3 separate regions of the Homo sapiens genome follow, and all the other regions are reported to be linked to region 2. The links are microRNA targets in miRTarBase. Many come from high-throughput screens and were not tested one by one. Region 2 holds a microRNA gene; each other region holds the end of a gene's coding sequence.
The links. Region 2 holds the annotated microRNA hsa-miR-3173-5p (UGCCCUGCCUGUUUUCUCCUUU, at 1,278-1,299, opposite strand). A microRNA usually pairs through its seed, bases 2 to 8, with sites in the 3' UTR of a target mRNA and lowers its output. Matches are read on the target gene's strand: a 7mer-m8 pairs with bases 2 to 8, a 7mer-A1 pairs with bases 2 to 7 and ends in A, and an 8mer does both.

Region 1 (3,256 bases), not on the chromosome of region 2:
AGTCACTTAAACTTTCCATTTTTGTCTTGAATCTTCATTTTTTCTTTCTCTGTTGAACCCCACCCACCCTTTGTGTACGGAAACCTCGAACAAAACAAAATAGACACCTTATTCCCCATTCTTTTCTTTGCAAATTTAGCAGTTTCTTAGACTTTGTCTTCCTTTTTATCTGTCACCACCTCCACCCCTTAGGAAATGTAGGGTTTAAATTAAAGGGTGAACAAAAACATGTGTTCTACCTTGTCTTTATATATTATAATCTGGAATCTAATTTCCAGTAATCTGAAAAATAAACTCTAATGGATGGTTGCTTTTTAGTTTCGTGTGGCTGATCAAAGAAAGAAGGCATACGCAGATTTCTACAGAAACTACGATGTCATGAAAGATTTTGAGGAGATGAGGAAGGCTGGTATCTTTCAGAGTGTAAAGTAATCTTGGAATATAAAGGTAATATGGTTATTTGAAGTTACTTAAAAAAAAATTTCTAATTGTGGTAAAATGCAAATACAGGTGACTGTCCCTCACAATGTTTAGACTTAAGATTTTTTGACTTTACGATGGTGTGGAAGTGATACACATTTGGTAGAAACCATACTTTGAATTTTGATCTTTGTCCACATGAGCAATAAGTGGCACAATACTTTTGTGATGTGGGGGAGCACCAATGACCACATCCCCCAGTCAGAAACATAATCACAAGGGTAAACAGCTGATGCTGTACTCTGTAGTGTTGTGTGAGATACTCAGTGTTTTATTATAAGCTAGGCTTTGTGTTAGATGATTTTCTTCAGCTGTAGGCTAACATAAGTGTTCTGAGCACATTTAAGGTAGGGAAGGCTAAGCTATGATGTAAGTTAGGTGTATTAAATGCATTTTCAACTTAAGATATTTTAAACTTATGATGGTTTTATCAGAATGTAACCTGATGGTAAGTTAAGGAGCATCTATAATATAAAATTTGCCATCTTAACCATTTTTAATTGTACAGTTTAGTAGTGTTAAGTTCATTCACATTGTTGTGCAACCAGTCTCCAGAACTCGTCATCTTACAGAATTGAAACCCTATATCCATTAAGCAACCCATTCACACCTCCACTCAGACCCTGGCAGCCACTGTGTTACTTTCTAAGAATTTGGCTACCCCAGGCATCTCATAAGTAGAATCACACAGTATTTGTTTTCTTGTGACTGGCTTATTTCACTTAGCGTAGTGTACTCAAGGTTCATCCATGTTACAGCATGTGTCAGAATTTCCTTTCTTTTTAAAGCTGAATGATCTATTTTAGTTGTGTCACATTGTTATCCATTCATCCATCAGTAGATGCTTGGGTTGCTTCCACTTTTTGATTGTTGTGAGTGATGCTGTGAACCTAGGCATGCAAATATTCCTTCAAGGCCTTGCTATCAATTCTTTTGGGGTATATTCAAAAGTGGAATTCCTGGATCATATGATTTTTAATTTCTTAAGAAACTGCCATACCCTTTTCCATAGTGGCTGCACCATTTTACACTCTTTCCATCCTCCCCAACACTTGTTAATTTTTTTTTTAACAGGGTCTCCCTCTGTCACCCAGGCCGTAGTGCTGTAGTGCGATCATGGCTCACTGCAGCCTCAACCTCCCAGGCTCAAGGGATCTTCCTGCCTCAGCCTCCCAAGAAGCTGGCACTATAGGCATGTGCCACCACACCTGGCTAACTTCTTTATTTTTAGTAGAGACAGGGTTTCACCATATTACCTGGGCTGTGCTTGAATTCCTGGGCTCAGGCGATCCGTCCACCTTGGCCTCCCAAAGTGTTGGGATTACAGGCGTGAGCCACTGTGCCTGGCATAATTTTGGTATTTTTTGATAGTAGCCATCCTAATAGGTATGAGGTGGTATCATTGTGGTTTTGATTTGCATTTCCCTGATTATTTGTGTTCTTGAGCATCTTTTCATGTACTTATTGGCCATTTGTATGTTATCTTTGGAGAAATGTTTATTCAGTTCTGCTCATTTTCAAATTTGGTTTTTTGTTTATTGGTTGAGTTGTTCTGTATATATTCTGGATATTAACCCCTTATCAGATATGATTTGTAAATATTTTCTCCCATTTCATAGGTTGCCTTTTCACTCTGTTGTGTCCCTTGATGCACAGAAATTTTGATGTCGAATTTATTTTTATTTTTGTTCTGTGTGCTTTTAGTGTCATATTCAATAAATCATTGCCAAATCCAATGTCATGAAGTCTTTTTTATGTGTTCTTCTAAGACTTTTATAGTTTTAGCTCTTATGTTTAGATCTTTGATTCACTTGAATTTTTGTGTAGGGTGTAAAGATCCAACTGTATTCTTTTACATGTGGTATCCAGTTTTCCCGAAATCATTTAAGATTGTCCTCTTCCATGGAGTGGTCTTGGTACCTTGGTGAAATCATTTGACTCTAAATGCGAGAGTTTATTTCTGGGCTATTTCTTTAGTCTGTATGTCTGTCTTCGGGGCAGTACTACACTGTTTTGATTACAGTAGTCCGTTTTATCTAAGATATGTTTCAAGACCCCTCTAGTGGATTCTTGAAACCACAGATAGTACCAAACCCTGTATATATTATGTTGTTTTTCGTGTACGTACATACCTATGATGACGTTTAACTCATAAATTAGACATAGTAAGAGATGAGCAACAATAACAAAATAGAACAATTGTAGTGTATAGTAATAAAAGGTGAATGTGATCTCTCAATATCTTGCTGTACTGTACTCACCTGTTTTTGAACCACAGTTGACTGTGGGTAGAACTAAAGCGGTGGAAGGTTAAACCACAAATAAGGGATGACTGCTACACTGTAGCTTTGTAGTATGCTTTAAAATCAGTAAGTGTGAGTCCTCTAGCTTTGTTCTTTCTTTCACCCCACCCGGAGGGTGCTCTAGCTATTTGTGGTTCCTTAAGAGTCTGTGAATTTTAGGATGGATTTTTCTATTTCTGTAAAAATGCCATTGGGATTTTGATAGGGATTGCATTAAATCTGTAGATTACTTTGGTAGTATGGACATCGTAACAATATTAAGTATTCCAATCCATGAACACAGGATGTCTTTCCTCTTATTTGTATCTTTAATTTCTTTTAGCAGTAGTTTGCATCTTTAATTTCTTTTAGTGTTGCTACTCTCTTACTATGCCTAATTTATGAGTTAAGCTTTATTATAGGTATGTGTATATATAGGAAAAAACGTAGCTGTATAGGGTTTGGTACCATCCATAGTTTCAGTAATTCACTGG
Region 2 (3,218 bases):
ATGGTTGAAGAGAAGCAGTTGTCTTTCTTTCCCTCTAAAGATGACTCATGAAATTATTAGTCCCATTTGCTGCTGCAATTACACTACACAGACCCATGAAAAGATCCAGCCTTAGGATGAAACCAGCACCGCAGATGGCAAAAATAAAGAACCTGGGTCATTGATGACATCAATAAACTGCTGGATCAACCAAACTCAAAGCCCAGCCTAACAATGGACTTTCCAATTAACTGAGCCAACAAATTCCTTAACTATCCAAGCTAGCTTGAGTTGAATATTCTGGGATAAAAGCAAACCAAATGACACTCTCTAAATCACTATTATCACTTCCTGTAAAAGGTATAAGTAGAAAAGAGGAAAGCAAAGAACAGATATGAACAGAAAGGAAAGGAAAAAAAGGAAAGAAGGGAAAGAAGGAAAGGAGGAAAAAGGGAAAGCAAGGGAAAGGGGAAAAGGAAAGAAAAGGGAAAGGAAGAGGAAGGGGAAGGAAAAGGGGAAGGAGAAGGAAAAGGGGAAGGGGAAAGGAAAAAGGGAAGGGGAAAGGAAAGGGGAAGAGGAAGAGAAAGGGGAAATAAAAAGGAAAATGGAAAGGGGAAGGGGAAGGGAAAGGCAAAAGAAAAAGGAAAAGGGAAAGGGGAAGAGGAAAGGGAAAGGGGAAGGGGAAGGGAAAGAGGAAGGAAAAGGGAAGGGGGAAGGGGAAGGAAAAGGTAAAGGGGAAAGGGAAAGAAAAAGGGGAAGGGAATAAGAGGAAGGAAAAGGGGAAGAGGAAAGGGAAAGAAAAAGGGGACAGGAATGGGGATAGGGAAGGGGAAGGGAAAGGGGAAGGGGAAGGAAAAGGGAAAGGGGAAAGGGAAAGAAAAAGGGGAAGGGAATGGAGAAGGGGAAGGGAAAGGGGAAGGGGAAAGGAAAAAAGTCAGGGATCAAAGCAGAAAGCCATCAGGCCACAAATATTGAGATAATGAACAAGTACTGCAGCCAGACCCCAAGCAAGGTGAAAAGCTTTGTTTGTAAGGGAAAAGTCAAGGGTCTTAGACTCCAAAAAACCAGGGATGAGCTCTACCAAGAAGCTTCTAAGACTTTGAAAATGTTCTCCTTATTTGTCCTTAGGAATACTTTTTTTCACTTTCTGCTATCAGTAAATTCTTTTTGAAACTGCAAAGCCGCTTGTTTCGGAAACAAATTGAGGAAAAATCTGGACAGTTCTTCCTCGGCACAAGAGAGGGAGAGAGATCGTTTCCCTGGCCTGCCTATTTCCTCCTTTGTTCTCATAAAATCACAAAGGAGAAAACAGGCAGGGCAGGGAAGCTGGCCCAAGACCAACAAAGACTCAATTCTATCTGGAAAATAAGCCCTAGACCTCCAATGTTTCTCAGGCCCGGTTTCACCTCAAGACACCAACCTCACTCAAGTATGTGGATCCTATTCCTACAAACCAGCAGGTAAAGAGCTTGGAAAAGGAGGAGTTGCAAATTCACTCAGTGTCCAGGTTCTGTTCCTGGCATTTCAAAGGACAGAGATTTTTTTTTTTTCTTAGCAAACACAACATTTCTCATAAATGCCCTACCCCACCCTAAAACTTTCACAGGGTTTAGAAAAAAATGATAGGTAGCTGGTTTCTAAGAATCAATCTGAGAAAAAAAGTGGAAAAAAAAAACAGAGAAATGAAAGGTTACATTTATCAACATTTAGGCTCTAAATAAAGAGAAAATAGATACATTATATAGTAAAAATAAATATCAAACAATAAAGAAATACAGAAATAACATCTCTAACCAAAAATACCTGAAAAGATTAAGGTTTCTATCAGCTCTCACAAAAAACCATGTGTAAGAAAATAATACAAACTACTGGAATGGAATTCATTAAAAAGTTGATATTTAAAAAGGAAATTAAGCAAAGCACTACACTCTGTGATATCTAGTCCCAAATGTACTCTGAAAAGTACTGCCCCCACTCATGACTGCCTGACTTCTGCCGACCTGTAACCTTACGTTCAGATTATTCACCCAGCTTCTCAGTAAACTATCGCAAGAACAAAAAACCAAACACCGCATATTCTCACTCATAGGTGGGAATTGAACAATGAGATCACATGGACACAGGAAGGGGAATATCACACTCTGGGGACTGTGGTGGGGTCGGGGGAGGGGGGAGGGATAGCATTGGGAGATATACCTAATGCTAGATGACACATTAGTGGGTGCAGCGCACCAGCATGGCACATGTATACATATGTAACTAACCTGCACAATGTGCACATGTACCCTAAAACTTAGAGTATAATAAAAAAAATAAAAATAAATAAAAAAATAAAAAAAAAAAAAAAAGAATGCTATCCTATTGCTGCCTCATCACCATTCACCAGCAATTTCCACAACAGAAGAGTAATCCCTGTTGGCTGAAAGCCTATAGCATATTATGCATCCTCCCTGACTGACCAACTGAAAGTGTTTAATCCTGTATTTCAATCCTATGTGCTCAATCCAAGTGATCCTAGCAGTTATACTACAGAGGCTTGGGGTATAGTCTTAATCCATAAAATGTACTTCTGTAATTTTATATGAATTCTTATTTAGAAAATTTCTCTTAAAACTCTGTTCTCACTAAAATATGACCAATTAGACTAGAATTTCCTTGGATATAGGAGCTGCATATCTTACCCTTACCTGTATTACCCACTGTACAGAACCACATCCAGGACATGGTAAACAAAAACTGCAGGTTGTTAGAATGAAAACAATGTCCACCTGAGTGACATTAAAACCTCAAACAGCTTCTATTTGCCTTTCATAATTTCTATCACAGATTTTTAGAGCTATTCATAGACACACATACACAACATACATGTTATTCTTTTACTGGAGCACAGCTCCATAAGAACAAGACATGAGTCTCATTCTTTGCACCTCTTAAATTTCCTGCTACAATGTTCTGTATATACATTTAAGTAAATATTTGACAAACTGAATTAGAGACTCATGAATGTCCACACAATAATATACAGAACAGAATCATGGATGGATCAAGATATATTTCTATTCGGTTTGGAAACACACATCTATCCCACTCCTACCAGCCCTGAGAGATGAGTGCAGGAGAGAGGATGTACAAGGACATAAAGAACAACAATTTAACCCTTCCAATTATATTTTCCATAAGGTTACAATGTTTAAATTAATTTTCATTCATTTAGTGGACAATAACTGGCCCCAGTAATG
Region 3 (3,256 bases), not on the chromosome of region 2:
CAGCCTGCACAGAGCCATCTCTTTGCCCTTCCAGATGTCTGACTGGGACCTTGCTTATGGATGTGTTTTTTTTTTTTTTTTTTTGAGATGGAGTCTCGCTCTGTTGCCAGGCTGGAGTGCAGTGGTGCGACCTCAGCTCACTGCACCCTCTGTCTCCCGGATTCAAGCGATTCTCCTGCCTCAGCCTCCCGAATAGCAGGGACTACAGGCATGCGCCACCACGCCCAGCTAATTTTTTTTGGATTTTTAGTAGAGACGAGGTTTCACCATATTAGCCAGGATGGTCTCCATCTCCTGACCTCCTGATCCGCCCACCTCAGCCTCCCAAAGTGCTGAGATTACAGGCATAAGCCACCGCGCCCAGCCAGATGTGTGAGCTTTTAATCTCTGGCTGATCTTAACCCACATCAGCCTAAGCTTGGGATGATTACTCTTGACCCTTTTTTTTCAGTGATTAGCAAATCTCCCCACAACCCAGGTGTGGAGAGAAGAGAGGTAGAATGGTGCTAGTTTCCTATTTTATTTTTGTGGTAACTGTACAGCACTTTAAAGTTATATACTCTATGTTTAAATATCTCCCTTAAAAAGCCTGAGCTGTACAACAATCTGGATGTGACTCTGTTACCCTTTTCCCACAAGATAGGAGGGAATCCCCTTTGTAAAACTATGAATCCAAATAAATGTTTACAAAGTGGCTCTTGTGATAATTGGTAATTAAACCATTACCAATTTTATTTTTGAAAAGGCAACACTGTAATAGTATATGCTGTCATTGCCCTGAGCCTGATCTGAACCAGAGTCTAGTTTGACCTGTCTTCTACCCAAGGCATTATTCCTTGTTGTTGATGTGGTATCTAAGAGGCTTAAACAACCTCTAAGGGACAAACTTGCAAGGTTATAAGAGAACTGCTTCTTTTTTTTTTTTTAACTTAAATTTTATTTTTTTGAGACACGGTCTCGCTCTCTTGCCCAGGCTGGAGTGTGGTGGCATGAACACGGTTCACTGCAGCCTGGACCTCCTGGGCGCAAGTGATTCTCCCACCTCAGCCTCCCGAGTAGCTGAACTATAGGCACATGCCACCATGCCCAGCTAATTATTTTTAAAATATTTTGTAGAGATGAGGTCTTGCTTTGTTGCCCAGGCTGATCTTGAACTCCCAAAGTGCTGTGATTAGAGGTGTGAGCCACTGTGCCTGGCCTAATTTAAATGTTAAATTCTACTTTTATCGTGTATGTCATCTCTCCAGTCATTTTCCTGGAAGACCTGCTTTTAAGAATGTATGGGGCTTAGTGCGGTGGCTCATGTCTGTAATCTCAACGCTCTGGGAGGCTGAGGTGGGAGGTTTGCTTGAGACCAGGAGTTTAAGACCAGCCTGGGCAACATAGCAAGACCCCATCGCTACAAAAAAATTTAAAAATTTCCTGGGTGTGGTGGTGCATACCTGTAGTCCCAGCTACTCAGGAGGCTAAGGTGGGAGGCTCACTTGAGCCCAGGAGTTTGGAGGCTGCAGTTAGCTAATGATCCCACCACTGCACTCCGGCATGACAGAGCTAGATACTGTTTCTAAAAAAAAGAAAAAGAGTATAGGGCAAAATCTCTACAGAAAGGGGGAAGAAACCCCCTAGAAGGGCAGGACCTTATAAGGAAAGAGGAGAAGCCAGTAGCCTGTTTAAGTTCATACACCTTAAAATTAACAATAATCCTATGCCCCTGAAGGATACTGGGTAATCGCAACTCAAGAGATGGACACAGCAAATGCATTCTCTCTCCAAGTCCTTCCTTTAATGTCAGGTAGTGCTTCAACCCAAACACAAGCAGTATACATACCATAGAGAAAGGGACCTGAGGGCATCTGAGTCATGCATGGTGTGGTACATACAAACCTTGGCCCAGCCCAAAGGAGCAGTCAAGGGCCTGGAAGAAAGATGGTTTGCTCTTTCCCCCTCCTCCTCTCTCTTTCCTACCGGGCTTAAAGTCCGTGGAAGAGAAAGTTTTTAATCAGTGGAACTGATAAGGCCTCAGGGCCGTGGAGGGTAGATTTGGTTGTTCAGTAATATAAAATGTGTTTAAGAAAAAAAACAGCCCAGGCTTCCCAGCAGTAGCCCATGTGTTGGCTGGTTCAGCAGCCTGACCTCTACATCTAGACAAGGAAGTGAGGAGGGTGATTGCTGGGCATTGGTGTAGGTTTATGACGGAGCAGCATAAGATTTTCCGTGCCCTGTGAACATGTATACAAACATTCATAGCCCCTTCCCCTCAGCCCTGCTCTGCTGCAAGGAAGCTGCTGAGTGAGTGACAGCTGGGCACAAAGTGTCTTGTGAGACCAGCTATAGGGTCTAATGCAGTGAAGTCAGTCATTTAGGACCTATTTTCACACAGGGGCAAGGAAAAACCAGAAACAACTTCTCTCTTACCCTTTAAACTAAGATACTTCATTCTACACGATTACCTGAAACAAATGTCTCAGGTCAAATCACAAGCCTTAGCTTCTGCTAGGGTTTGAAGTCTGGGAAATATATAATCCAGCTCTTCTCTTTCAGTCCAAGCTCTAGCTTGTCAGCAAGACTGTTGCAGAAGATCTATCCTTAAGAGGCAGAAACATCTGCGGTGAGGAAGGCAGCTATTGAAGGTATTCCAGGAGCATGAGACTGAGTTTGCAGAGCTGAGGGTTGTCAATTTCCTTTTCTACTGATATCTTCTTCCTTTAGAGCAAACTTCCTCCTTAGGACCTCAGAGATAAGCACAGCAGGGTCTTCCTCCTTCAATAAACTCCGGTTCCTAGAGACACAATAATAGCTTGAGTACTTACTCTTTCCTGTGTAGTGCTGTATATCTTTTGAATACATTATCTCGTTGAATCCTCACAACAATCTTACGAGGTAGGTGCCATTACAATTCCCTTTCACAGATAAGGAAATTGAAGCACAGAAAGGTTATACAAGTTGCCCAAGGTCACTAGTCACTCAGCAAGTAAGCGGTGAATCCAGAGTTCAGAACCAAACTAGCTGGTTCCAGATCTCATCTATTAACTAGAATGCTTTACTATTTCCTGAAATAGCTATAAAGTATGGGCAAAGTAAAGGACCATCAGTCTGTTAGAGTTGGCCTCTGGTGGCTAAGCTTCTGCCTTCTGGCCCTGTTTTCTTAGTAGCATTTCCCCAGAGGGTCAGCAGGGGAAGTGACTGATGACTCTTGGCTATTCTGACCCTTGATAGTTCTGGAGAAAAGGTGTGCTTGGGATTTCCTACCACCGGG

Region 1: the mRNA of COX6C is a reported target of hsa-miR-3173-5p. The part of its 3' UTR that is shown has no 7-base or 8-base seed match.
Region 3: the mRNA of MTFR1L is a reported target of hsa-miR-3173-5p. Seed matches in the 3' UTR shown: 7mer-m8 at 2,261-2,267 and 7mer-A1 at 2,216-2,222.

Annotation. Positions count from the first base shown.
Region 1 is chr8:99,884,681-99,887,936 of GRCh38, reverse strand. COX6C (cytochrome c oxidase subunit 6C) reads left to right here. Exons shown (of 4, transcript NM_004374.4): 3 at 319-447. The coding sequence ends at 432. Among named protein-coding and RNA genes, the nearest start is that of COX6C, 7.4 kb to the left of the region's middle.
Region 2 is chr14:95,136,684-95,139,901 of GRCh38, forward strand. It overlaps MIR3173 (microRNA 3173), which reads right to left and starts at 1,303; the gene lies at 1,236-1,303. The region is part of intron 1 of DICER1 (dicer 1, ribonuclease III); the gene reads right to left.
Region 3 is chr1:25,831,444-25,834,699 of GRCh38, reverse strand. MTFR1L (mitochondrial fission regulator 1 like) reads right to left here. Exons shown (of 7, transcript NM_001099625.2): 7 at 1,762-2,779. The coding sequence ends at 2,674. AUNIP (aurora kinase A and ninein interacting protein) reads left to right here. Exons shown (of 3, transcript NM_024037.3): 3 at 1-694. Among named protein-coding and RNA genes, the nearest start is that of MTFR1L, 13 kb to the right of the region's middle.